Homo sapiens: one gene and its partners. The protein of the gene in region 3 purifies or fractionates together with the protein of the main gene of each other region. This does not show direct contact. Each region holds a gene or a part of one and is shown on either strand. Other genes may lie near its edges. The genes, in order: CNTNAP3, TIMP3, CELA3A, NFXL1, PIK3C2A, RAB18 and TARS2.

What was found.
Region 1: the proteins of CELA3A (region 3) and CNTNAP3 purify together in Homo sapiens (affinity purification with mass spectrometry; one large-scale study listed by BioGRID and IntAct). This does not show direct contact.
Region 2: the proteins of CELA3A (region 3) and TIMP3 purify together in Homo sapiens (co-immunoprecipitation; one large-scale study listed by IntAct). This does not show direct contact.
Region 4: the proteins of CELA3A (region 3) and NFXL1 purify together in Homo sapiens (affinity purification with mass spectrometry; one large-scale study listed by BioGRID and IntAct). This does not show direct contact.
Region 5: the proteins of CELA3A (region 3) and PIK3C2A purify together in Homo sapiens (co-immunoprecipitation; one large-scale study listed by IntAct). This does not show direct contact.
Region 6: the proteins of CELA3A (region 3) and RAB18 purify together in Homo sapiens (co-immunoprecipitation; one large-scale study listed by IntAct). This does not show direct contact.
Region 7: the proteins of CELA3A (region 3) and TARS2 purify together in Homo sapiens (co-immunoprecipitation; one large-scale study listed by IntAct). This does not show direct contact.

The regions. Positions count from the first base shown.
Region 1 is NC_000009.12:39,278,101-39,282,127, forward strand, and holds part of CNTNAP3 (contactin-associated protein-like 3 isoform 1 precursor), read right to left. Parts: intron 1-4,027.
Region 2 is NC_000022.11:32,856,678-32,860,704, forward strand, and holds part of TIMP3 (metalloproteinase inhibitor 3 precursor), read left to right. Parts: intron 1-571; coding exon 572-683; intron 684-1,339; coding exon 1,340-1,461; intron 1,462-2,502; coding exon 2,503-2,700; 3' UTR 2,701-4,027.
Region 3 is NC_000001.11:22,004,358-22,008,384, reverse strand, and holds part of CELA3A (chymotrypsin-like elastase family member 3A preproprotein), read right to left. Parts: intron 2,939-4,027; coding exon 2,841-2,938; intron 2,724-2,840; coding exon 2,589-2,723; intron 1,508-2,588; coding exon 1,371-1,507; intron 1,013-1,370; coding exon 870-1,012; intron 1-869. UniProt on the Homo sapiens protein: Efficient protease with alanine specificity but only little elastolytic activity.
Region 4 is NC_000004.12:47,848,332-47,852,358, reverse strand, and holds part of NFXL1 (NF-X1-type zinc finger protein NFXL1), read left to right. Parts: intron 1-416; coding exon 417-503; intron 504-1,210; coding exon 1,211-1,264; intron 1,265-4,022; coding exon 4,023-4,027.
Region 5 is NC_000011.10:17,089,363-17,093,345, reverse strand, and holds part of PIK3C2A (phosphatidylinositol 4-phosphate 3-kinase C2 domain-containing subunit alpha), read left to right. Parts: intron 1-1,069; coding exon 1,070-1,187; intron 1,188-1,277; coding exon 1,278-1,350; intron 1,351-1,689; coding exon 1,690-1,799; intron 1,800-1,886; coding exon 1,887-2,012; intron 2,013-3,425; coding exon 3,426-3,608; 3' UTR 3,609-3,983.
Region 6 is NC_000010.11:27,535,014-27,539,040, forward strand, and holds part of RAB18 (ras-related protein Rab-18), read left to right. Parts: intron 1-2,862; coding exon 2,863-3,038; coding exon of another isoform or gene 3,039-3,078; 3' UTR 3,079-4,027. UniProt on the Homo sapiens protein: The small GTPases Rab are key regulators of intracellular membrane trafficking, from the formation of transport vesicles to their fusion with membranes.
Region 7 is NC_000001.11:150,497,068-150,501,094, forward strand, and holds part of TARS2 (threonine--tRNA ligase, mitochondrial), read left to right. Parts: intron 1-462; coding exon 463-680; intron 681-1,434; coding exon 1,435-1,597; intron 1,598-1,829; coding exon 1,830-1,967; intron 1,968-2,148; coding exon 2,149-2,226; intron 2,227-4,027. UniProt on the Homo sapiens protein: Catalyzes the attachment of threonine to tRNA(Thr) in a two-step reaction: threonine is first activated by ATP to form Thr-AMP and then transferred to the acceptor end of tRNA(Thr). Also edits incorrectly charged tRNA(Thr) via its editing domain.

The DNA of each region.
Region 1 (4,027 bases), on a different chromosome or scaffold from region 3:
TGATTTGATACAAAATCAATGTGCAAAAATCACAAGCATTCTTATACACCAATAGCAGACAAACAGAGAGCCAAATCATGAGTGAACTCCCATTCACAATTGCTTCAAAGAGGATAAAATACCTAGGAATCCAACTTACAAGGGATGTGAAGGACCTCTTCAAGGAGAACTACAAACCACTGCTCAAGGAAATAAAAGAGGATACAAACAAACGAAAGAACATTCCATGCTCATGGGTAGGAAGAATCAGTATCATGAAAATGGCCATACTGCCCAAGGTAATTTATAGATTCAATGCCATCCCCATCAAGCTACCAATGACTTTATTCACAGAATTGGAAAAAACTACTTTAAAGTTCATTTGGAACCAAAAAAGAGCCCGCATTGCCAAGTCAATCCTAAGCCAAAAGAACAAACCTGGAGGCATCACACTACCTGACTTCAAACTATACTACAAGGCTACAGTAACCAAAACAGCATGGTACTGGTACCAAAACAGAGATATAGAACAGAACAGAACAGAGCCCTCAGAAATAATGCCGCATATCTACAACTATCTGATCTTTGAGAAACCTGACAAAAATAAGCATTGGGGAAAGGATTCCCTATTTAATAAACGGTGCTGGGAAAACTGGCTAGCCATAAGTAGAAAGCTGAAACTGGATCCCTTCCTTACACCTTATACAAAAATTAATTCAAGATGGATTAAAGACTTAAATGTTAGACCTAAAACCATAAAAACCCTAGAAGAAAACCTAGGCAATACCATTCAGGACACAGTCATGGGCAAGGACTTCATGTCTAAAACACCAAAAGCAATGGCAACTAAAGCCAAAATTGACAAATGGGATCTAATTAAACTAAAGAGCTTCTACAGAGCAAAAGAAACTACAATCAGAGTGAACAGGCAACCTACAGAATGGGAGGAAATTTTTGCAACCTACTCATCTGACAAAGGGCTAATATCCAGAATCTACAATGAACTCAAACAAATTTACAAGAAAAAAACCAACAATCCCATCAAAAAGTGGGCAAAGGATATGAACAGACACTTCTCAAAAGAAGACATCCATGCAGCCAAAAAACACATGAAAAAATGCTCATCACCACTGGCAATCAAATGCAAATCAAAAACCACAATGAGATACCATCTCACACCAGTTAGAATGACAATCATTAAAAAGTCAGGAAACAACAGGTGCTGGAGAGGATGTGGAGAAATAGGAACACTTTTACACTGTTGGTGGGACTGTAAACTAGTACAACCATTGTGGAAGTCGGTGTGGCAATTCCTCAGGGATCTAGAACTAGAAATACCATTTGACCCAGCCATCCCATTACTGGGTATATACCCAAAGGATTATAAATCATGCTGCTATAAAGACACATGCACACGTATGTTTATTGCAGCACTATTCACAATAACAAGACTTGGAACCAACCCAAATGTCAATCAATGATAGACTGGATTAAGAAAATGTGGCACATATACACCATGGAATACTATGCAGCCATAAAAAATGATGAGTTCATGTCCTTTGTAGGGACATGGATGAAGCTGGAAACCATCATTCTCAGCAAACTATCGCAAGGACAAAAAACCAAACACCACATGTTCTCACTCATAGGTGGGAACTGAACAATGAGAACACATGGACACAGGAAGGGGAACATTACACAACGGGGACTGTCGTGGGGTGGGGGTACGGGGGAGGGATAGCATTAGGAGATATACCTAATGCTAAATGACTAGTTAATGGGTGCAGCACACCAACATGGCACATGTATACATATGTAACAAACCTGCACGTTGTGCACATGTACCCTATAACTTAAAGTATAATAATAATAAAATAATAAAAAATTAAAAAGTTCAGTGTTCGAGTTCTCTGTCTCTTGGCCTCTGTGATGCCTGCAGAAACCCAGTCGCAACCCATTCATTCATATTCCTCTCCTTAGAGCCAGGAGTTAGCGCCCCAAGGGCAGTGCTGAATCCCTGGACAGGACTTGGGATAAATGCATTCCCCCTGCTGTCTCTCAGAGGCACAGCTGTGAAACACATTCTACCGGCTTCCTGAGAGCTTCCCAGGGAGTTCATGCCCCAGTTGCTCACAGAAGTGACCAGCTCAATGACACCCCCTTTTGGTGGATTTTTCTTCTCTATTCCATTCTTCCCTCTTTTATGAGCTCACTTTCTAAAAGAGGCTACCTGCACAAACGCCCATCACAGGCTCAGCTGTCTAAGAAAACTCTGGCTGGGAGAGTGGACTTTCCAGAATGGAATGTGGGCAGTATTCTAAAATACTAAATAAAATGCAACAGGAAAATCAAAGGGATGAACGTCACATGGCATAAAGAAGGAGGTAGAGGACATCTGCCTAGCCTTCCAAGAACAAAACAAATTGACAATCAACCCTGGCCACCCAGGAGATGAGCTTTGTCACAGCAATTCTTCCTCATATCCCAGAAAAGAGAAGAAGAAATGAGGACAGTAGAATCAACTGTGACATCCAAAAAAGGCTGCCCAATCTCTTCTCTAGAATGTGTCAACTGTGATTTATGAAATAACATATGCTATTTTTATATTGCAATGTTTGCTTATCTATAGGTAAGAGCTCACTATTTCTTATATCATGTTATAATTATATTCATGAAGAAGATGACCATTGCACAGACAAGTACACTGTGAAGAACCGTGAGGAGAGATTTTACCCTACTTGCAAGCTAACAAATGAGTCTGCCAGTTTGTTTCATCGTTGCGGCAGAAGACTCCTGGGTCAAAGCAAAGGACTGTATTACTTACAGCATAGCAAACAATATGAGCATCAGCATATTTGCATCAATTTCCTTGCCTCCAAGTCCTCTGGGGGAATATGGATGGGCACAGATGGATGTGTGCACACGCAGTGGGTTACATGACAAGTGAGGAGCCCTGAGCTTAGGGAATTCAAAGTTTTCTACGGGCAGCAGGCATTGCTTGCCCTTTGGCAACACTGCTGAAATAAATCTCTTATGGTTCAAGATGTATTGATAAGCATGTTAAGCTTATTTTTATACATGAAGAACAACAAATTGTTATTTTCTATGGTTATTCACAGTATCTCAAAATCTATGTGATATTTTACTAGCTTAGTTTTATTATAATTTTAAAAGACCATTTGGGTTCCTTTGTTAGTGGACAAGAATAAAAAGAGATAAATTAGTTACTTTCTTAAAGCTAAGCAACATCATTTTCTATTGAGGAACCCAAAACTTTCCTAACTTTTACAAATGTTTGTAAATTGTAGGTTCTGTGACAGCCTGTGCTATAAAATTTCATAAGCTTATAAGAGCTTTCTTAACACAGCTGTGGACTTTTCTCCTGGTGTTGTACAGCAGTTCAAATTAGCTCAAGAATCATAAACCCTATATTTGAACAGCTATATAATATTATATATTTATTTTCCCATTTGATGTTGCATTACTTTTTCTACCAATCTTCTTACAATAAATTCATAAATATCTTAATTATAGCAAATGTGAAGTTCTTAAAGATGAGAATCATCAAACATATTTCTATTACAGAGATATATTCTTCAAAAAGTCATCTAAAATAGAAACCCAACTGGGAGACACCTTAAAAGGTTATCTGCCACAACAGAAGCTTTGCTTAAAATACTGTTCTCTTTGTATTTGTGTTAATAATTGATTTGTCTTTGAAATTAAATTAGGAATCTACTATATCTAGTGGTCTTGAAATCAAAGCCCCCTCCCCATTCCTTATCTTCACTGCTGTGTTCAAAAAGACTAGACTCCAGGGACGTGTCCAAAGCTGGGTTAAATATAGGATGCCTGAGAGACACCCTTCTTTCATAGTTCGAGGGTAAGCATGTAGCTGTATGTGTGTGGAGGGGCGGGTGGAGGAGGTTAGCTGTATCAGGGTAGGCATAATACTATATTTTAAATCCCTCCTTCTGTTATAAATGTAAGCTGAAAATAGTCTCTGCTCCCAGCGGCAGCAATCGTAAACTCGCTTAGTTCTGCCTGT
Region 2 (4,027 bases), on a different chromosome or scaffold from region 3:
TCCTCTACTAGCTACTTTGAGATATACAATAAGTTATTGTTTACTGTAGTCATTCTACTGATTCAATGAACACTGGGTCTTACTTGTTCTGCGTACTCGTATTTTTGTACCCATTAATTATATCTCTTTGCCCCAATCCTTATTACCTTTCTTGCCTCTGGTAACCACCAATCCACTGTCCATCTTTATGAGATTTACTTTCTTAGCTCCCACATGAGTGAGAACATGGTGTATTTGTCTTTCTGTGCCTGGCTTATTCCGCTTAGCAAAACGACCTCCAGTTCCAGCTGCATTGCCACAAATGACAAGATTTCATTCTTTTTTCTGGATGAATCATATTCCATTGGGTATAGATACCAGGTTTTGTCTATCCATTCATCTGTTGATGGGCACTTAGGTTGATTTCATATCTTGGCTATTGTGAATATTGCTGCAGTCAACATGAGAGTGCAGACCCCTCTTCCATATTCCGATTTCCTTTCCTTTGGATACATACCCAGCAGTGGGATTAGGGATCATACGGGTGTCCAAACTGGGAAAGAAGAAGTCATGATGTTCCTTTTGCCCACAGATGTACCGAGGCTTCACCAAGATGCCCCATGTGCAGTACATCCATACGGAAGCTTCCGAGAGTCTCTGTGGCCTTAAGCTGGAGGTCAACAAGTACCAGTACCTGCTGACAGGTAATGGCCAACTCTAGCTTCTAGGCCAGGGTTTGGCCAAGGTCCACTGTTTCTTGACTTCAGAAGAACACATACGGAGTAGTTGACTCACCAAATGTCCAGTAAATTGTAAGGAGTCTCTAATGTTGAATTCATCCCACTTACCCAGTGCTAGGAGCTTGAGGCTCCTACACTTAGGCTGGACTTTGGAATTAGCTCCACCACTCACCTGGGGGAGGAAATCTCCTAATTTGTAGCTTCTCAACTTTACTGTAAATAAAAAGGGAGTATCTGTTCCTCTCCACCTCACACTCGACCTGTTAGGCCCGTCTTTGAAAGTTATTCATCTTTAGGCAGTCAGTGTAGTAAAGGAGAAAACAAAAACAAAAATCATTATAAAGGGAGTGAAGAGTTGGCCTCTAGTCCTAGCTCCAGTATTTAATGGGCTTGGGACCTTTGGCAAATCACTTTACCTCTCCAAGCCTCATTATCCTCATCTGGAAAATGGGGCTACAGTCCATTTTAAAAGGTGTTGGGTAGGGTGAAATAAAATCATGGGTCTGAAAAGTACCCAGCCACAGTGCCTGGGCTAAGTGGGAACATAGTAGGTGTGAATTCTCTCTGGGCTAGGCTCTGGACAAAACAACCTCTCCTTGTTTTCTTCTTTCCTCCTGTAGGTCGCGTCTATGATGGCAAGATGTACACGGGGCTGTGCAACTTCGTGGAGAGGTGGGACCAGCTCACCCTCTCCCAGCGCAAGGGGCTGAACTATCGGTATCACCTGGGTTGTAACTGCAAGGTAAGCTCTGGGGTCACTGGGGGAAGGAGGGGAGGTGCTGACTTGCAGCCCTAGAAACATCAGCTCCCAATGCACTGGGTGCCAGGCCCTCGGCTGGGAAGGGTATGCATGTGTTAGGCCAGGGCAGAGGGGCAGGTCTGAGCAGATATAGTAAGGATTGTTGCCCCAGGTGGGGCAGTGAGGAAGGCAGGGAAGGAAGAATGCCTTTCTGCTGTAATCGGCTGCCTCCATGATGACCACTTGGAAGCTGCTGGGGCATGAGGGCTCTTGAGTCCCTGGCCCCACCTGGCAGTTCAAGGCTGGAGGTATAGGATCCTGACACTGGCAGGTTCTCCCAAGTGGTTTCAAGTGGGCTCACCCTGGTAGCTGACTCATCGCTAACCCCACCCCAGGTAGGCAAATGGGCCCAGGACTGCAGAGACCAGATGCTACAGAAGGTCTCTCTTTACCAGGCCCATCCCCCTGACCCAAGTATAGGGCCAAGGTGCAGCCTGCCTGCTGTGGGAGGAAGTTGGGCCATTCTCTCACTTCATCTTCAAAACAGTCCTGTGTGGTTTTAATTACTATGATCTCCATTCTGCAGATGAGAGCTCAGAGAACTTAAGTAACTAGCCCTAGGTCCCACAGTTCACTGAATCTGGTTTCCAACCTAGGGCAGCTAGACTCCAAAGTTTATGCTCTAACCTTTCTAATTCCTCGATTCCCTAAAACAACTGAGATCTCCCACCTGAGACGAAAAAGTCCTCTCAGTAGTCTAATTCTGCTACTTACTGGCTGTGTGACCTGCAGCAAGTTACTTAACCTCTCAGAGCCTCCTAAAACTGTGATAAGAATTAAAGAGAATAATATCAAAGCACTTATCAGAATGTCTGTTAGACAGCAGATGCTCAAGCTAGTGCTATTTATATTATGATCACTGAGGGACTGATGTGGCTAGGCTTCCCATGCAGTGGCCCCAGGGTCTGAATCCAGGCTCGGTAGCCTCAGGCCTGGGCATACCATGGCAGAGTCCATCAACTGCTGCCTGTTATCTAATTGCAGATCAAGTCCTGCTACTACCTGCCTTGCTTTGTGACTTCCAAGAACGAGTGTCTCTGGACCGACATGCTCTCCAATTTCGGTTACCCTGGCTACCAGTCCAAACACTACGCCTGCATCCGGCAGAAGGGCGGCTACTGCAGCTGGTACCGAGGATGGGCCCCCCCGGATAAAAGCATCATCAATGCCACAGACCCCTGAGCGCCAGACCCTGCCCCACCTCACTTCCCTCCCTTCCCGCTGAGCTTCCCTTGGACACTAACTCTTCCCAGATGATGACAATGAAATTAGTGCCTGTTTTCTTGCAAATTTAGCACTTGGAACATTTAAAGAAAGGTCTATGCTGTCATATGGGGTTTATTGGGAACTATCCTCCTGGCCCCACCCTGCCCCTTCTTTTTGGTTTTGACATCATTCATTTCCACCTGGGAATTTCTGGTGCCATGCCAGAAAGAATGAGGAACCTGTATTCCTCTTCTTCGTGATAATATAATCTCTATTTTTTTAGGAAAACAAAAATGAAAAACTACTCCATTTGAGGATTGTAATTCCCACCCCTCTTGCTTCTTCCCCACCTCACCATCTCCCAGACCCTCTTCCCTTTGCCCTTCTCCTCCAATACATAAAGGACACAGACAAGGAACTTGCTGAAAGGCCAACCATTTCAGGATCAGTCAAAGGCAGCAAGCAGATAGACTCAAGGTGTGTGAAAGATGTTATACACCAGGAGCTGCCACTGCATGTCCCAACCAGACTGTGTCTGTCTGTGTCTGCATGTAAGAGTGAGGGAGGGAAGGAAGGAACTACAAGAGAGTCGGAGATGATGCAGCACACACACAATTCCCCAGCCCAGTGATGCTTGTGTTGACCAGATGTTCCTGAGTCTGGAGCAAGCACCCAGGCCAGAATAACAGAGCTTTCTTAGTTGGTGAAGACTTAAACATCTGCCTGAGGTCAGGAGGCAATTTGCCTGCCTTGTACAAAAGCTCAGGTGAAAGACTGAGATGAATGTCTTTCCTCTCCCTGCCTCCCACCAGACTTCCTCCTGGAAAACGCTTTGGTAGATTTGGCCAGGAGCTTTCTTTTATGTAAATTGGATAAATACACACACCATACACTATCCACAGATATAGCCAAGTAGATTTGGGTAGAGGATACTATTTCCAGAATAGTGTTTAGCTCACCTAGGGGGATATGTTTGTATACACATTTGCATATACCCACATGGGGACATAAGCTAATTTTTTTACAGGACACAGAATTCTGTTCAATGCTGTTAAATATGCCAATAGTTTAATCTCTTCTATTTTGTTGTCGTTGCTTGTTTGAAGAAAATCATGACATTCCAAGTTGACATTTTTTTTTCATTTTAATTAAAATTTGAAATTCTGAACACCGTCAGCACCCTCTCTTCCCTATCATGGGTCATCTGACCCCTGTCCGTCTCCTTGTCCCTGCTTCATGTTTGGGGGCCTTTCTTTAACTGCCTTCCTGGCTTAGCTCAGATGGCAGATGAGAGTGTAGTCAA
Region 3 (4,027 bases):
GAGCCCAAGAGTTAGAGACCAGCCTGGGCAACATGGTGAGACCTCATCTCTACAAAAAATTTAAAAATTAGCTAGGCATTGTGGCACACACTTGTACTCCTGGCTGCTTGGGAGGCTGACATTGGAGGGTTGCTTGAGCCCAGGAGGGCAAGGCTACAGTGGGCTATGATGGCATTACTGCACTCCAGCCTGGGCAACAGAGCAAGATCCTGTCTCAAAAAAAAAAAAAAAAGAGACAACGTCTTGCTGTGTCGCCAGGCTTGGGTGCAGTGGCAAAAATCATAGCCACTGTGAGCTTGAACTCCCAGGCTCAAACAATCCTCCCACCTCAGCCTATCAAGTAGTTGGGACTACAGGCGAGTGCCACCATGCCTGACTAAGTAAAAAAAGTTTTTCTGTAGATGGGCATCTCACTATATTACCTAGGCTGGTCTCAAACTCCTAGCCTCAAGCAATCCTCCCACCTCAGCCTCCCAAAGCACTTGGATTATAGGCAGGAGGGACTGTGCCCAGAACAATGATGGTATTCTTAATGGTTAATTATAACTTTAGAACCACAGAATTGACCTGCGTTAGAGGTCATGGGACCAGTATCTCCTGCTGTGCTGATGCGGAAGCCTGAGGACCAGGGAGACACAGTGACTTGTCCCAAGTCATGTCAGTGTGTGAGCTGAGACTGCAACCCGGGGGTCCTGACTCCCAGGCCTGGGCTCTGTGTCTGGACTGCGCTGATTTCCTCCAAGTCCTGCCTGGCCTGGAGGCTGAATGGGGCAAGCAGGCAAGATCCTTCCTCCACCTTCCAGGCAGTTGGCCCCATTCCAAGGTCCTGCACACCCAGCACCACCTCGGGCAGGTAAGAGCTGACTCACGTTGCAGCCGGAGCGGATGTACCCTCCAGCACACACCATGGTTTTCTTCACGGTGGAACCCCACCAGTTCCACCTGGAGCAGTGCTTATAGTCCACCACGGGCAGCCGGGCCTGCTGCAGCTTGTCTGGGAGTGGCCCATTGGCTGCAAGGATAAAAAGCACCGAGTCAGGGGTCTGGGGGCACACCGCTAGGTGCCCCAGAGGAAGGGGGCATTCAAGGCCCACAGTTCTTCTGCCCTGATGAGGACTCTCCTCCCACCCGCTAAATGGTCCTGCATGCTTTGTGCACCATTACATCCCTAGCACGTGGCACACAGAAGATACCAAAACATGTGCAATTGACCACATTCGTGTTTTGGAGGTTGATGGAAGAAGGCTGCAGCTGGAGAGAAATGGGAGAAAAGTACAAGGTCCGGTCTTGGTGTTACCTTCAACCTGCAGCCCCCAGGCCCTGTCTTTCTGCCACTGTCTCTGTGGCCAGCTAGAGAAGTCAGCACGTACTATAGAGACGGCCCCAGCCGGTGATGTAGCAGGGTGTCTTGTTGGGAAGGATGTCACCAGCGGGAGGGAGTGAGGCGAGCTGGACGGCATCTCCCAGCTGGGCGCTGCGTGAGAGCTTGATGAGGGCGATGTCATTGCTGGGGAGGAGGGAACAGTCACGGGGCCTGGTCCTCCAGCCGGCCCAAGTCCTACCTTCTAGCCGTTGCTCCAGGCTATTCCACCTCTGAGATGCCCCAACTTCTTTACCCTCCAAATCCACTCTTTCATCATCATTATTATTATTATTATTATTATTATTGAGACAGAGTCTCGGTCTGTTGCCCAGGCTGGAGTGCAGTGTCACAATCATAGCTCACTGCAGCCTCCTGGGCCAAGGGATCCTCCTGCTTTCACCTCCTGAAGTGCTGGAATTACAGGCATGAGCCACTATACCTGGCCCAAATCGTTCTTAAGGCTGAGGAATTTTATTTATTCATTTATTTATTTTTGAGTCAGAGTCTCGCTCTGTTGCCCAGGCTGGAGTGCAGTGGCATGATCTTGGCTCACTGCAGCCTCCGCCTCCCGAGTTCAAGTGATTCTCCTGCCTCAGCCTTTCCAGTAGCTGGGATTACAGGCTCATGCCACCACGCCTGGCTAATATTTGTTAAGATTTTTTCATACACTTGAAAGGCATAAGATTGTCTCCTTGGCCTTCACACCACCCAGGAAGCCCAACTTCATGGTCACCTTTTGACAAATGGCAAAACTAAGGCCCAGAGAAGGCCAGTGACTTGCTCAGGCCATACACAGAGTTAATGCCAGAGCCTGACTCTCAGCCCAGTGCTCCTCCTTTTGCCCATAGTGCTGGGAGCCCAGGATGCACTGGGTGAGCCATCTATTGAATGGAGAAACCCTCGGATATGGGGGAAGGATGCCAGAGGAACCCTGAGCTCTGAAGCCACTAGCCAAGTGGCCTTGGCAGAGTTCCTGCCCCTCCCTGAACACTGCCATCCCCTCTGTAGGGAGACAGGTTTGGTGGTGATGGTCCTTAAAGGCTCTGCTGGCTTCAATCCTCAGTGTGTGGGACCTGGGCACAGGCTGCTGGACTCAGCTCCCCTGTCCCTATGTCCCTATGTCCCTACGTCCCTACTCAGAGTTGGAGCCTACTCAGACTTGGCTGTGGGTCATGGAGGGACAAGTAGAGGAGCCCCTGGGTTCCAGACCGGAGCATTCACTCACCCACAGGCCACACACGAGCGGTTCCAGAGTGGATGCACAAACAGCTCCTCAGAGTTGATGGGGATCACCTGCTCGGGGCCCTCCTTCACAGCAAGGTTGTACTCACCCAACACCACCTGGTAGGTCAGATCCCTCCTGCAGGCAGAGGTGAGGTCAGTCGGGGCCTGACTGGCTCACCTCCCTCCTTCCCCATCATCACCCACTCTCCCCCGCTGCCCAGGGCCACAGGCAGGGACAGGGTAGAGAACTCACGAGATGCAGTGGCCGGCAGTCACAACCCAATCGGGGGCGATGAGGCTACCGCCACACGTGTGGTAGAAGCTTCCACTTTTCTCATACTGCAGGGAAACCTGGTGGCCCAGGAGGAAAGGGCCTCAGTGGGCTGGGCCCCACCATGAGAGTTGCCACCAATGGCTGTATAGGTTGTGCACTGTGCAACTCTAGAGGGCGCCATTCACATGGAAAACGAGAGCACCCACTGAAATATGCAGCATACAACCTGCGACCTGGGCAGCTGCCCGTGGTGGCCCTATCACTTTTCCATGGGGGTCACATTCTGATTCTCCAAAGCCTCCCCACACCAGCACTATGACCTCCCTGGGGACCCCAACATTCTCTACCTTCTGTCTCTTAACAGCCCTTGAAGGCCCTCTGTTCTATCACGCACCCCTCGCCCTGTGAGTTTTTTTTTTTTTTGAGATGGAGTTTTGCTCTTGTTCCCCAGGCTGGAGTGCAATGGTGGCAATCTCAGCTCATTTCAACCTCCGCCTCCCGGGTTCAAGCGATTCTCCTGTCTCAGCCTCCACAGTAACCGGGATTACAGGCACCTGCCGTCGTGCCTGGCTAATTTTGTATTTTTAGTAGACACGGAGTTTCACCATGTTGGCCAGGCTGGTCTCGAGCTCCTCACCTCAGGTGATCTGCCCACCTCGGCCTCCCGAAGTGCTGGGATTACAGGCGTGAGCCACCGCGCCCAGCCCCCCTGACTCTTTTGAACCTCAGCTCTTTCAAGGCCTCTTGAGCCTTCTGAAGCACAGCTCACCCTGATGAGTTCTTTGCCTCTCTTCCCATTTCCTACACATTCTGATTTTCAAAAGCTCCATCTAGACCAGGGTTAGCAAACTGTGGACAGTGGGGCACATCAGGCTTCTGGTCTGTTTTTGTAATAAAGATGTCCTGGAAATAGTCACATTCATTTCTGTATTGTTTGTGTCTGCTTTCATGCTACCATGGCACAGTCAAGTCATTACTATCCAAACCATCAAATAACCTAAAATATTCACTCTCTGGCCATTTACAGAATAAGCCTGCTGACCCTCTCCGATAAAACTTCCCATAATCATGGGAATGTTCTATATCTTTGCTGTCCAATATGGTAGCCACTAGCCACATGTGACTATTGAACATTTGAAATGTGGCAAGCAGGCCAAGCATGGTGG
Region 4 (4,027 bases), on a different chromosome or scaffold from region 3:
TACTCTGTGGACTAATGCAGATTTACAACATTCCATCCCACGCACATACCAGGAAGCTCTGTTGGACAGCACATTTGTAGAACATTGTATTCCCTGGACACTTTGCAAGAATAACAAACAATAAAGAAAAGTAAAGAATAAAAACAACATGGGAGCTAAGTCCAATAGTGGCACATAGTAATTATTAAGTTGATTTTTAAAAATTTTATGGTATTCTCTTTTTTAAGTTAAGAGAAAATAAGCAAGTAATCACTATTTGAAGCAGATATTTAATGCTTGCAACTATATCATCATTAAATATTAAGACATCAAATAATACTTATAACCTTAAGCTATCAGATGAACTTTGCTTTTTTATGGCAGACAGGTCTTTGAGGGAAAAATCATTTAAAATTTGAAAATCGGGTTGTTTGTAGGAATTGCAGTGCAACAAAGTACGTGAAAATCAGGTTTCAATAGAATGTGACACAACGTGCAAGGAAATGAAGCGGAAAGCATCTGAGGTAATGTCTCGTTAAATATCATTTTAAAGACTAGTGGCCTTTCCCTTCTTATTTTGTGCATTTATGTACTTATTAAAAACAACTTGAAATCTCATTTTTTTGCTTTTATAATAAAAGCCTAGTTTTATAGGCTTATTTTGAATGGCAGATTGGGATTTTCATTGCCTAGTGTATATGAAGGCTTTTCATCTTCTATGCCCGTTATAAGATTTTGAGATTCTTTGCTGCTTGGGTTATCTCTAGTGTTACTCTTCCCCTCCATCAACCCAATCAGTGACCTCTTGATTTTGTTTGAAAGTAAGGATTCCCTTCCATGATAGCACATTTAAGATAAATTTAACTCTAGAGAAACAGCAGTATTTAATAATTAATTCTAGATTCTTAATACAGCAACTCAAGAGGAAAAAAGGCAGTTTTAAAATTTGCTGTTACAGTGTTTTAACTCTTTGAATTACGATGTAATACCGATTTTACTTGTTAAGCTGAGATGCTCATATAAGGTATAACACTCCATCCATGACCACCTTCAATTTATTAGATAGTGCCTTGGTAAAACCTTGTCTCAGTATAGCATTTACATTTCTTTAAATGATTTCAAGCTCCTAAAAGTTGATATGGGTTAATAGAACCTGGATGGGTAGATGTTAAAATTCCATATAAAATGTGATGACTAAATTGTAAATTGACTTTTGTATGTGTATAAACAGATAAAAGAAGCAGAAGCCAAAGCTGCTCTTGAAGAAGAAAAACGAAGACAACAGGTAACCAAACAAAATACCCAGATTTATGTCTCTTAGCATCATTGCTAGATTTTGTGCAAACACGGGGTATATTCCAAGGTCAAACTAAGGTCTAGTCTCTATTGTGAACTGAAAATAACAGTTCTTGTAAAACAAAAATGAGCCATCTACTAACTTGACTTTAAGTATACTGAAACTCTGAAAAGGTATGAGATCTCATATATTCCCAAATTTTTTTTTTGTATTTCCAATTTACTTTCTTGCCAATATCATCCATACTTCAGCCAGAAGAATTTTAATTCCTCCTTTGGCTGGGGAGTGAGAGTGAGCGAATCATCACCATTGTAAGGCATCTTCTGGAGACCATGACTTTACTTAACTAAAAGTATTTGAGTTCTATTTTACTGAGTTGCAGACCACCTATAACAAATAAGTGCAGTTTACTAATCAGTACATTTGTTTTAATAATATATTCCCATATTTCCCTATTAGATCTTTAAATGCGGGATTATAACCTGTTCTTTGTTGTTACCTAGAGAACAAGTACATTCCTGATACTCCCTGTTTAAGTATTTACTTTATTGATCATACACTTGAAAGAGTGGCTTGACTTTCTAATAGTGATGTATAACTTTTTATTATTATTTGTCAGTTTGTATCTTGAAATGCTTTATACTTATCAGATTGTATTGTGTGCTAAGCTACTGCCTTTATGAATGATGAGATTGAAACTTGCGTGATTTGCATGAATAAGGAAATTCAAACTTTGATGAGTTGTAGGAACAATTAGAACAATTAGGAACATTAGAAACAATTCATGTAGTAAATAATGGTTGGCCAAGGTGACCTTTGAGATTTTATGGTTCTGTAAAGTTGATTTGCCTGATATCCCCAAAATAAGTTATCAGAGCTAAATAGTAAAACATAAGTTGGCTGGAATCCTAGGAGATTAAGTTATTAAGAATAGTTTAGTATGTTTTCTCCTTATTCCCTTTGCTATCTTTTTATAAATCATCATGGATGAAAATCTTAGATACATTCCCTGTTTACTGACTCTTTAAACAGAATATAATCAGTCCTTAGTATATGTAGGTTCTGCATCTGTGAATTCAACCAACCACAGATCGAAAATTTGTTTCAAAACAAGTAAAAAAAAAAAAAAATAAATAATACGCATTTTAAAATACAGTGTAACACCTATTTACATAGCATTTACATTGTTATTAGGTGTTATAGGAAATCTAGAGTGATTTAAAGTATACAAGAAGATGTTTGTGTGTTATTTGCAAATCCTCCACTATTTATGTAGAGACTTGATCATCCTCAGGTTTTTATATCCAAGGGGATCCTAGAACCAATTTCCTACAGATACTGAGGGATCACTGTATACAGCACATAATATATACTTGGTGACTGTGAGTCACCATTTAACTGTCAGTTATTTTACTGTGTCTGTAGTCCTCAAGTTTGCCTGCTTTTAAGATATTTTGACGTTTTTTATATGTCAGAAACTAACCACTTGGGAGTAGTCTGACATTTTGGCTCATTGAAGAATGCCACTTTGTATTAAACTAAGTTTATTATTAGATCTTTTTCAAGTGTGGTTTATGACCACAGTAATGGATATGTGAACTAAAGTTTACATTTCCTCCTATTAAATAACCATTTACAAAGTTTTAGGTGGATATTATTAAATACATATATATTTTAACTATTGTCTTAATTACCTATGCACTATAGCATATTATATTACATTATTATGTGTAAAAGTTTAATAAGTACTTAGCAGTAGGATAAAAATCCCCATTTGATATTGAATGCAATTCAGTTATCGTCTTTTAGTACTAGTTTAAAATTTTTATGTCTAAAATAGTCATTTTGATTTTAAAGCATGAAGAATTTTTTCCTTTGAAGAATTTTTACTATTTTTAAAAAATGTATTTGGTAGAGAAGAATCGAGTTCTGGCAGCTTTTTTCTCTTTACTCACTTGAATTTCTTTCTTAAAAGCCACTAATGTTTATTGCATGCATTGTAAACAACTAGAATTATAGGTATCTTCATTCTCACTAGGCATCACAGCACTTGCTAGAAGCTTTATAGAATGCTGGTTCTATAATAATTGGGTTGAAGTATAATGGTGTCAATGTATAAGACCAGTGTCTATATTTTAGAGCATCCTGATTTAATAAGACGTTTTATTTTATTTATTTATTTATTTATTTTTTTGAGATGGAGTCTCTCTCTGTTGCCCAGGCTGGAGTACAGTGGCGCCATCTCGGCTCACTGCAAGCTCTGCCTCCCTGGTTCACGCCATTCTCCTGCCTTAGCCTCCCGAGTAGCTGGGACTACAGGCACCCGCCACCATGCCCGGCTAATTTTTTGTATTTTTAGTATAGATGGGGTTTCACCATGTTAGCCAGGATGGTCTTGATTTCCTCACCTTGTGACCCGCCTGCCTCAGCCTCCCAAAGTGCTGGGATTACAGGCGTGAGCCACCGTGCCCGGCCTAATCAGACATTTTAATATTTAGTATCATAGTCAGCCCTACAGTTTGAAATATTCTCTTCTGTTATCTCCCAGTCTCCTTTCTGCTTACCTAAACCCTGAATTTGTTGAATACAATCAGTAGTGGAGAGTAGTGTTTTAAAAAATCAAATCAATATATTGACTATATATCATTACTATTAAAACATTACCCAAATTGATTTTTATGTAAATGGAAACTTTCAAATCAATGTATGCATTGAATTTAATTAAAATGATGCTGTTTTTATTTAGGCTGA
Region 5 (3,983 bases), on a different chromosome or scaffold from region 3:
GCAGTGAGCTGAGATGGCACCACTGCACTCCAGCCTGGGCAACAGAGCGAGACTCCGTCTCAAAAAAATAAATAACAAGCAAACATCATCGAGACTGTCAATCAAAATCTTAGTTTTGTATCTGATACCCTTTGGGAGTCTTCAGTTTTAATGTAGCTCAATGACCAGTAGATTTCCTGTGTCGAGTTTTTTCATATTTTCTTCAGACTAGATTTCAAAAGTGAGGATGAGGTGAAGTGGGTATTAGAGTTTGTTTCCGTGTACAGTTTCATTTTTCCACTGCCACCAAAATAAGTGGAATTAAGATTATCCTTTCAGCACCTTACTTAGGCCTTATGTTATTATTTGTGGATTTTACTGGTATATGTAATATTTATGGCTGATTGAGTAGTGATTTTATTTTTTAGGGATCAGATCTGGATAAAATATTTATGAGTGATTAAACTTGAGAAGAAATATTAGAAAATAAGTATTAAGTAGGTACAAAAGTAATTGCGTTTTTTGCCATTACTTTTAATGTCAAAAACCACAGTTACTTTTGCACCAAGCTAATAATAAATATAGGAAATCAACACATACACCTTTTCAACCAAGGCTCATAAAAGGATAATGGGTGACTGAACGATGTCATCTCCAATACTTTGAAGAGAAATCACAAAAAATTACTTATTTTATTTTGAGACGGAGACTTGCTCTGTCACCCAGGCTGGAGTGTAAGTGATCTCGGCTCACTGCAACTTCCGCTTCCCAGGTTCAAGTGATTTTTCTGCCTCAGCCTTCCGAGTAGCTGGGATTATAGGTATCTGATTATAGGCATCAGCACGCTAATTTTTGTATTTTTAGTAGAGACAGGGTTTTATCATGTTGGCCAACCTGGTTTCAAACTCCTGACCTCAAGTGATCCACCCGCCTTGGCCTCCCAAAGGCCATGAGCCACCGTGCCCGGCCACAAAATATTACTTTATAATGGATTAAGACTACTTTGTCTTTAAGTATATATGAAAAAGTGTATTTCTAAGGAAATATTGTACTTATTTAAATCCCACTTGTTTTTGTTTTTCTTTTGTAGCTTTCCTAATAGGATGGTTCTAGGAAGAACACACATAAAAGATGTAGCAGCCAAAAGGAAAATTGAGTTAAACAGTTACTTACAGAGTTTGATGAATGCTTCAACGGATGTAGCAGAGGTAACCTTACTAAATGAGAAGTAATAACATCTTATACCTTTTGTGTTACATAATATTTAAACTAATGAATTGCTTTCTCTTTATTCTTAGTGTGATCTTGTTTGTACTTTCTTCCACCCTTTACTTCGTGATGAGAAAGCTGAAGGGATAGCTAGGTCTGCAGGTGAGATTATTTTTTTTCTCTTTATTGGTAACTCATGATCTGCAAGTCTGTAACTTCTCGATGAATGTGGTAGAATGACAGCAGGCTTACTAGCTGTAGTCTGAGAATGGGAGGAGAGTATTCTTTCTAAGCCAGTCTATTTCTGAATAAATATAACTTTCCTAATAGATGTGATTACTAAAGAAGTATAAATCAATGACCTATCAGGTTGTTTACTCCTTTTTCCCCTCCCTTCTGTCCGCACCACATGTGACAGTCTTGAAAATAAAGCAAAATCCTTTTATTGCAGCTTGAACCACTACAACCAGTAAATAAAGATGAAAATATTTGTATTTTCAGATGCAGGTTCCTTCAGTCCTACTCCAGGCCAAATAGGAGGAGCTGTGAAATTATCCATCTCTTACCGAAATGGTACTCTTTTCATCATGGTGATGCATATCAAAGATCTTGTGAGTGATTACAAAGAATGATGGTTGTAGAGGAAACCCTTACCTTGGTAGGAAGCATTACTATTAAGGGACTGCTTTTCTTTTTAGGTTACTGAAGATGGAGCTGACCCAAATCCATATGTCAAAACATACCTACTTCCAGATAACCACAAAACATCCAAACGTAAAACCAAAATTTCACGAAAAACGAGGAATCCGACATTCAATGAAATGGTAAGTTAAAATCATTTCTAGAAGTTTCCTTGGTTTATTATTTTTTTAATTTTCATTTTTAAGTTCTGACGTGCGTAAGCAGGATGTGCAAGTTTGTTACATAGCTAAACGTACCATTGTGGTCTGCATACCTATCAACCTATCACCTAGGTATTAAGCCCAGCATGCATTAGCTATTTTTCCTAATGCTCTCCCTCCCACCATCCCATCCCCCAACAGGCCCCAGTGTGTGTTGTCCCCTTCTCTGTGTCCATTGTTTTGAGATTTTAAATTTTAAAACATTTTAAGGCCAGGCGCAGTGGCTCATGCCTGTAATCCTAGCAATTTGGGAGGCCGAGGTGGATACATCCCTTGAGCTCAGGAGTTTGAGACCAGCCTGGGCAACATGATGAAATTCCATCTCTACAAAAAAAAAAAAAGAAAAAAATTAGCTAGGCATGGTGGCACGCACCTGTAATCCCAGCTCCTCGGGAGGCTGAGGTCAAAGGATTGCTTGAGCCCAGGAGGTCAAGGCCACAGTGAGTCATGATCATGCCACTGCACTCCAGACTGGGCAACAGAGTGAGAGACCCTGTCCCAAAAAAAAAAAAATTTTAAGTTTTTAGGTATCAGTTGCTGAACTATTTGTTATACAGTGTACACCAATAACAGTCCAATAGTATTTAACAAAATGATATAAAATAGAGCCCTCATAGACCTTAGGAGCCATAATTCAACTACGTTTCCAGTGTGTGAACCCCCCTCTATAATAGTCACAAAAAGTGGTTGTCTAGTCTGTGCTTAATTACTTCCAGACTATTCAGTTTGTCTTAGATCACTCCACCTCTTAGATGATTATTATTATTATATTATTTTATTTATTTTTAGAGGCAGAGTTTCGCTGTTGTTACCCAGGCTAGAGTGCAATAGAGCCATGTTGGCTCACTGCAACCTCCGCCTCCTGAGTTCAAGTGATTCTCCTGCCTCAGCCTCCTGAGTAGCTGGGATTACAGGCATGTGCCACCACGCCTGGCTGATTTTGTATTTTTAGTAGAGACAGGTTTCTCCATGTTGGTCAGGCTAGTTGTAAACTCCCAACCTCAGGTGATCTACCCGCCTCAGCCTCCCAAAGTGCTGGGATTACAGGCGTGAGCCACCATGCCTGGCCTCTAGTTTTTATTTTTTAGCTAATGATTAGTCTTGCTTTGTATCTCTCTATGTCAGACATCACAGGAATGATAGTACAATCCAAGACTCCTGAAACACAAAATGTCCTTCTAAAGTATTCAGACAAAACCTACCGGATGTGTCATAATCAGTGTCACTCATTGTGGTCACTCTTTGGCTAATATTCTCACGTTTTCACTTGAAATGTTCCAAGAAACCAAACAAACTTTAATTTGTGATTTACTGTTCTTTTTTCCTTTGTTGTAGCTTGTATACAGTGGATATAGCAAAGAAACCCTAAGACAGCGAGAACTTCAACTAAGTGTACTCAGTGCAGAATCTCTGCGGGAGAATTTTTTCTTGGGTGGAGTAACCCTGCCTTTGAAAGATTTCAACTTGAGCAAAGAGACGGTTAAATGGTATCAGCTGACTGCGGCAACATACTTGTAAACTAGTGAATGTTTGAGCTTTGGAAGCATGAACAGTTATAAACGTGCATGCATACATGCACACACACACAGACACACACACACACACTTGTTAATTTTGTATAGTATTTTTATACTTGGACAGAACTTATAAAGTTAAATATACTTGCTGCATTTCAACACATCTGTTGGACCAACAGTCACATAACTAACCTTTTTGAATTTTTGGAAGCCATTGCTGTTTTAAAGTCATTATGTAGAATGCTACAAACCCTAAACTTAATATATACTAATTCCTGAAAAAGACTTTGAGACAGTACTATGTCAGTTCAGCCACCTATTTTGCATTGTTTTCTATAAGGAGGCAAAGCATATGTGTTTTCCTGTTATGCACCTT
Region 6 (4,027 bases), on a different chromosome or scaffold from region 3:
GGGAGACAGACTTAAATAAGTAAGTAGTGCTATGAAGGAAATAAAACATTATAAGGGGAGAGAGAATGACTGGAGTGGGGACTGCTTAGGGAAAGTTCTTAGAGGCTGTCCCATTTGAGCAGAAATCCCTCAGGTGAGGATCTAGAGCAAGCTTGTCCAACTCATGGGCTGCATGTGGCCCAGGATGGCTTTGAATGTGGCCCAACACAAATTTGTAAACTTCCTTAAAACATTATGAGATTTTGTGCTTTTTTTTAAGTTCCAGCTATCATTAGTGTTATTGTATGTTATTTGTGGCCCAAGACTATTCTTCTTCTTCTAATGTGGCCCAGGGAAACCAAAACACTGGACACCCCTAGTCTAGAGGGAGATCATCTCAGGCTGAGAGAGGAGCAAATATTTCCTGAGGTGGGAATCAGGCTACTGTGTTAAAGGAACAGGAAGAAAGCGTGTGTACTGGAGCATAGAGTGTGTTAAGGAGAAGGCAGATGGTGAGAGATGCCATTCAAATGGTAAAGAGATGGATTGTATTCCAATTGTGGTGGAAAGTAGGGAAGCAGCGGTGTGACCTGATACTCTAAAAAGATCCTGTTGTGTAGAAAATGGACTAGGGGAAACAGAAGCAAGAGACTAGTTCTTCTCTTGCAGTGGCCCAGATGAAGGAAGAAGCGGTTTGACTGTGTAGCCGTAGAGGGTGGTAGAAAATTGGCAGTTCTAGGAGATACAGTGAAGGTATAGCTGACAGGATTTGTGGGTGGATTGGGTATGGAGGATAATTAAAAAGAGCAATCAGGCGGGTGCAGTGGCTCACGCCTGTAATCTCAGCACTTTGGGAGGCCGAGGCAGGCGGATTACGAGGTCAGGAGATCGAGACCATGGCTAACACGGTGAAACCCCGTCTCTACTAAAAATACAAAAAATTCACCGGGCGTGGTGGCGGGTGCCTGTAGTCCCAGCTACTTGGGAGGCTGAGGCAGGAGAATTGCTTGAACCTGGGAGGCGGAGCTTGCAGTGAGCGAGATCACGCCACTGCACTCCAGCCTGGGCGACAGAGCGAGACTCTGTCTCAAAAAAAAAAAAAGAGAGCAATCAGAGATAACTCCATGTTTTAGGCATGAGCAGTGAGGTAGATTGTGCTGCCAATAATTAGGATGTGAAAGATTGAGATAAGAGCAGGTTTAGGGTAGGGAAGTGAGGAATCAAGAATTTCACTTTGACATAAGAATGAGACATTTTTCCGATAACCGGTGGACATGGTGGTCATTGGCATTTAGGTGGCATTCAAGGTCATGTGATTAGAGTGGTGACTTCAGGAAAGAACGTGGATAGAAAAGGGCTGAAGAAGCCTGGGCAACATAGTGAGACCTCATCTCCAAATAAAATCAGCTGTGTATAGTGGCATGTGCCTGTGATTCCAGCTGTTCTGGAGGCTGAGGTGGGAGGATCACTTGAGCCTGGGAGGCCAGGGCTGCAGTGGAGCTCCCACTGCACTCCAGCCTAGGTGACAGAGTGAGACCCTGTCTCAAAAACAAAACAAAACAAAGAAAATGGCAGAAGATTGAACCCTGGGGGATTCCAGCAATTAGAGGTCAGCAGAAAGAGGAAGTGCCAGCAAACAAGGCTGCACATGACATGTCAGTGGGCTCAGAGGATTTTCAGGCATGTTCAGTGTCCTGGAAGTCAAGGGAACAACTTGTTTAAAAGAAGAGGAAGTGATTAGCAGTATCAGATACCAAAGATGTCAAATAAAATTAGGATATTGGATTTGACAAGATAAAGGGTGTTGGTGGTCTTGGAAAAGAATGATTTCAGTGGAGTGGTGGGAATGAAAGCCTAATTAGAGTAGTTTGAAGAAAGAACGTGAGATAAGAAGGTAGAAACAGCTTATGTGGATAACTCTTTAGAAGAGGTTTCAAAGAGAGTGGAGAAATGGGTGGCTACAAGAAGGGCATGTGGCCTAGAGAGCAAGTTTGTTTTTTAATAGGATGGAAAATAATTCGGCAGACTTTTAGGCTGATTGGTATGATCCAGTAGAGAGAGCGTTTGGTCCTTCGGTGAATGAGAAGGGATGGGACTCCAGGAACAAAAGAAGGCGATGGCTTGGATAGCAGCAGGGACAGTTTATCCATTCTCACAGGAGGGAAAGCAGAGCATGAGGATACATATGCAGGTAGCTTGGTAAATTTATTAGTGGGATGATCAGGCAGTTCTTGCCAGATTGCTTCTGATTTTCTCAGCATAATGCAGCTAGATTATTAGCTGCGATAGAGTTTTGAGAGGAAGGAATAAAGTACTCATCTCAGACGGTGAGAAAGATCATCACTAAGGAAACGCAGGGTTGGAAGCAGTGCTGAGTGTCCAGTTGAGTTTCATGAGCAAACATTTGCTGTGGGACCAGTTTTCATGGTGGTTTGTCATTTTGTCCAGCTGCCTGGAGCTGCTTGGTTGAAGGCACAGAATAATCAGATTAATTGTTTAACTTGTATGAATTTCTTTATTTTAAAATAGGAATAATATCTGCCTTGGGAGCAAGTTGTAAGAGTTAACTGAAAGCTTAAGGAAAAAACTTTCGCTCGCTATTTAAGTAGGGCTTTACAAGTTACAATTCTATCACAGTTTTAAGATTATAAACCAGTGTTTTTTTGGTATAAAATTATATACTAGTATTCTTATGGATAGAATTTAATTAGCTCAATTTTGAGATTTGGAAATTCACTAGTTATTGACCTTTGGGGAAAAATTGCTGATTTGGATCTTAATATATTGTAGGCTGATATTTATGCCCTGATAGTTTCCCAGAAAAACATGAGAATATGGCCAGAAAGGAATATACTATGAATGACCTTTTTCCTTGAATTTCAGAGGCAAGTGCAAAAACCTGTGATGGTGTACAATGTGCCTTTGAAGAACTTGTTGAAAAGATCATTCAGACCCCTGGACTGTGGGAAAGTGAGAACCAGAATAAAGGAGTCAAACTGTCACACAGGGAAGAAGGCCAAGGAGGAGGAGCCTGTGGTGGTTATTGCTCTGTGTTATAAACTCTGGGAAATTCCATCTCTTGCATATTTGATCAGATAGTGACATCTTTCTGTATATAAACTCTTTAACTGCTATTTTAGGGACCTTGCAGTTTGCACATAATTGTTTTATATCATAGCAGTAAATATTTGCAAGAAATCCCACTCATCGACCCCGGGTAAAATGTTATGGTAAGCATGCACAGTTTGCAGTCTACAGTTTTTTTATGTAGCACAAAATAGGTGTACCTTTATAAGTACATTCAATTTTATGATTTACATTTATCATGTAATTTTTAAAAAAATCCATCTATCTAGGATATGTTGATACAAAGTCTGCTTTTGCTATTCTTTTTGCTTAAATACTCCTATCATTTTCTGAATTACTTGGTATTTAGAACTCCTAGCACCACGGGGAAGAATAGAGGTATCATCAAACGTGGCAAATTTTCTTTCAGGAATAATAAAGAGCATGATTCCACAGCTTTTCTGGGATGTTTGAGATTCTTTTTTAGTACTAAGCAAAATTCTCATCACAGAATGTAGCCCAGGCCAATTTATAACTAAATCTCTATTTGTTCGGATGATGCTTCTAAAACAGCATTGATAGGTTAAAGAAGCTTGGTATTTTTAATTTACTTCAATGATTAGCTCAGTTGCTTAACTGGAGTTTTAATCCTGTGATATGTACATTGGATTCATGACTGTGCAGCATTTTTAGTTATGTGGTGTTTGGCAGAATGACAATAAGGTTTTCCCCCATTTTGGTTTCAGGAGGACATGAATAGTGTGTTTATTGTAACTCCTCATACACTTTTAAAACCAACATCTTTTTTCATAAATGTTGGTAGTGTTTGTCCAGGTACCTTAACTGTAGCTTGTGTAATGTTGATGAATATCTGTATCTTACGGCTTCCATAATGGCTAGTTGATATTCAAAAACCTATTTCTGTGTTTTGAGGGGTGGGGAAAAAAAACACTAAGTGATAATTTGAAAAAGGCATATTGCT
Region 7 (4,027 bases), about 130 Mb from region 3:
AGGTCAGGAGTTCGAGACCAGCCTGGCCAACATGGCAAAACCCTGTCTCTACTAAAATAAATACAAAAAATTAGCCAGTGTGGTGGCAGCGCCTGTAGTCCCAGCTACTGGGGAGGCTGAGGCAGGAGAATCCCTTGAACCCAGGAAGGGGAGGTTGCAGTGAACTGAGATTGAGCCACTGCACTCCAGCCTGTGTGATACAGTGAGACTCCGTCTTGAAGAGAAAAAAAAAGGTGGGGGGGCTGGTTTGGAATCATAAACATAAATATTGAAAGTGCTGGTGACCTTTAATACTACAATTGTGTGGTCTGCAGTCGGGGAGCATAGAGATGGGACCTGGTATTTAATAGGTTGTGGTTGCAATCAGCATGGCCTGAGGGCCCAGGAAGATCACACAGCTGACACCCTACCTGCTTTCCTTCCAGTTACTCTGACCTTCCATGTCTGTACCCTCCTCTCCAGGCTGAGTATGCCCATCGTGGTTTCTCCGAGGTGAAAACTCCCACACTGTTTTCTACGAAGCTCTGGGAACAGTCAGGGCACTGGGAGCATTATCAGGAAGACATGTTTGCCGTGCAGCCCCCAGGCTCTGACAGGCCTCCCAGCTCCCAGAGTGACGATTCTACCAGGCATATCACAGATACACTCGCCCTCAAGCCTATGAACTGCCCTGCACACTGGTAAGCTGGGAGCTAGGGTTACAATCAGGTTGCTAAATATTAAATAATAGAAAGCACCTTGGGGCCGGGCACGGTGGCTCACGCCTGTAATCCCAACACTTTGGGAGGCCGAGGCGGGCGGATCACCTGAGGTCGGGAGTTTGAGACCAGCCTGACCAACATGGAGAAACCCTGTCTCTACTAAAAATACAAAAAATTAGCCGGGCACGGTGGCGGGCGCCTGTAGTCCCAGCTACTCAGGAGGCTGAGGCAGGCTAATGGCGTGAACCCAGGAGGTGGAGCTTGCAGTGAGCCGAGATCGCGCCACTGCACTCCAGCCTGGGTGACACAGCGAGACTCCATCTCAAAAAAAAAAAAAAAAAGAAAGCACCTTGGAAAGAGTATTGGGACACCGATTTGAGCCTACAGTCTTCCCCCTAGCTAACCATGTAAATTTGGGAAACTCATTTTACCTCTTTAGGTCTCAGTCTCCTTAAAGTTGCTATCTAAGGCTCCTCCTTCAGCTCAGTGACCATCACAGAACAGGGAAATGGTAAACGATGTCTGTTATTGTGTTACTGAGAAATCCACTTTTGAACCTCAGGGCTCAGACTGTGATGAGTGGGATTGACAGGACTCAGTGGGAGGATGTGCTGAGGCTGGAGAGGGTTATAGCAGATGGTGCAGAGAAAGTAGGCAAGCAGATTGGGTGGAGGAGCAGTCTTCGGGGGCTAGTCCTCCCTATGGCCCTGACCCCTCTGCACCCCAACCTCAGCCTGATGTTCGCCCACCGGCCCAGATCCTGGCGGGAACTGCCCCTGCGACTAGCTGACTTTGGGGCTCTACACCGGGCCGAAGCCTCTGGTGGTCTGGGGGGACTGACCCGACTGCGGTGCTTCCAGCAGGATGACGCTCACATCTTCTGTACAACAGATCAGGTGGCCTTTCCCTGGCTCCACCAAAGCTTTTCTAAACCACCTTTCTTTCTCCCTATGAACCTGCAAACCCCTGATCTTTATTTGCCCCCTGTATGTACTATAATTCAGCTACATTCTACCCCCAGCTTGCTTCCGCTTCCTCTCTGTTTTTGCCCTTTGTTTTCCTCAAACTGCCAGCATCCCTGATCTCTAGCGGGCTCACAGCTCACTGACCCTTATTTCCTGCCCCTAGCTGGAAGCAGAGATCCAAAGCTGTCTTGATTTCCTCCGTTCCGTCTATGCCGTTCTTGGCTTCTCCTTCCGCCTGGCACTGTCCACCCGGCCATCTGGCTTCCTGGGGGACCCTTGCCTTTGGGACCAGGCCGAACAGGTGAGTAGGAGGTAGAGAAATAGAGGCAGATAAACCACTCTCTGGTGGGAAGGAGTGGAGAATACAGTAATCAAGGTTCTCAGAGGCATCTGGTGAGTGGGTCATTTGTTGGGGACTGACCGGATGTGTTGCTTTTGAAGTCTAAGATGATGTATTCCACTCTTGTCTCATTCCTTCAAAGGTCCTTAAACAGGCCCTGAAGGAATTTGGAGAACCCTGGGACCTCAACTCTGGAGATGGTGCCTTCTATGGACCTAAGGTAAGCTTGGGACCCTGGTTAGTGTTGTATTTATTTATTTTTTGCTTTGTTTTAGTAAATATTTAATAGATACAAAGAATTTTTTTTTTTGAGACAGTCTCACTCTGTCACCCAGGCTAAAATGCAGTGGTGTGATCTCAGCTCACTGCAACCTCCAGCTCCCTGGTTCAAGCAATTCCCCTGCCTCAGCCTCCCGAGTAGCTGGGATTACAGGTGTACGCCACCACACCCGGCTAATTTTTTTGTATTTTTAATAGAGATGGGGTTTCGCCATGTTGGCCAGACTGGTCTCGAACTCCTGACCTCAGGCAATCCACCCCACTTGGCCTCCCAAAGTGCTGGGATTACAGGCGTGAGCCACCGCACCCGGCCACAAAGAAATATTTTTAAACTTACGTAGGATATAAAGAAAAACAATATACTTTCTGCCCTCTTGGCATCTGCAATCTAGTGAGGGCTGCTGAAGGTAAATAGGCCATATCAGTGCTGCGAGATCTGTGCTGTGTAGGTACCAAGAGAGCACGTTAGCTGGGGTTAGCATTACTCGGGGAGGTTACAAAAGGTGTCCTGCAGGAATCACTTTCCAATCTGAAAGGTGAGTGTTGGCCAAGTAAAGATGTGTTTCAGGAGGGAACAGTGTAGGCAGAGGCTGGGGATAAGGATGAAAACACATGGCAGACCAATCTGGGCAACACAGGGAGACCCTGTGTCTACCAAAAAAAAAAAAAAAAATTAGCCGGGTGCAGTAGCTTGTGCCTGTGGTCCCAGCTACCCAGCAGGCTGAGATGGGAGGATCACCTGGTCCCAGGAGGTAGAGGCTGCAGTGAGCCGAGATTGCGCCCCACTGCACTCCAGCCTGGGTGATAGAGTGAGACCCTGTCTCAAAAAAAAAGAAGCCAAGGGGAAAAAAGGACTGAAAAGTGTCCACTGGATTTAGTAAAAAGGCTGCTGGATTTCAAAGGACCATTTTCAGTAAAGTAGGGCCTGAGGGTGGAGTTAGAAGATGAATAAATGAGGCCTGTGTGGTGGCTCACGCCTGTAATCCCAGCACTTTGGGAGGCCGACGTGGGTGGATCACTTGAGGTCAGGAGTTCGAGACCAGCCTGGCCAACGTGGCGAAACCCCATCTCTACTAAAAATATAAAAATTGGCCGGGTGAGGTGTTAGGACACACCTGTAGTCCCAACTACTCAGTAGCCTGAGGCAGGAGAATCGCTGAACCTGGGAAGTTGCAGTGAGCCAAGATCACACCACTGCACCCTAGCCTGGGCAACAGAGCAAGACTCCGTCCCAAAAAGTAAAAATAAAACAGGCTGGGGGCGGTGGCTCACGCCTATAATCCCAGCACTTTGGGAGGCTGAGGCAGGTGGATCACCTGAGGTCAGGGGTTTGAGACCCTGTCTCTACTAAAAATACAAAAATTAGCCCAGCGTGGTGACAGGCACCTGTAAACCCAGGAGGCGGAGGTTGCAGTGAGCCGAGGTCGCACCACTGCACTCCAGCCTGGGCGACAGAGTGAGGCTCCATCTCAGAAAAATAATAATAAAATGAAAAATAAAATAAATGCTATGATGAGAGGAAGTCTATTTGGAGGGAGAAGTTGTTGTAAAGGGAAGTTCCTGGAGAGGTTTAAGGTAGGATTGAGAAGCCTTCATAGAAGGGATCACCATTGCCATTGTATCCAGGGTGGAAGGAAAGGCTGAAGGTAGATGCAAGGAAGTTTGTAGGCATGGTAACAGGAAGTTGAGGCTCTTCCCATCCCATGGTATCAATTATCTGAATTCTTCATGAGGCAGGATCA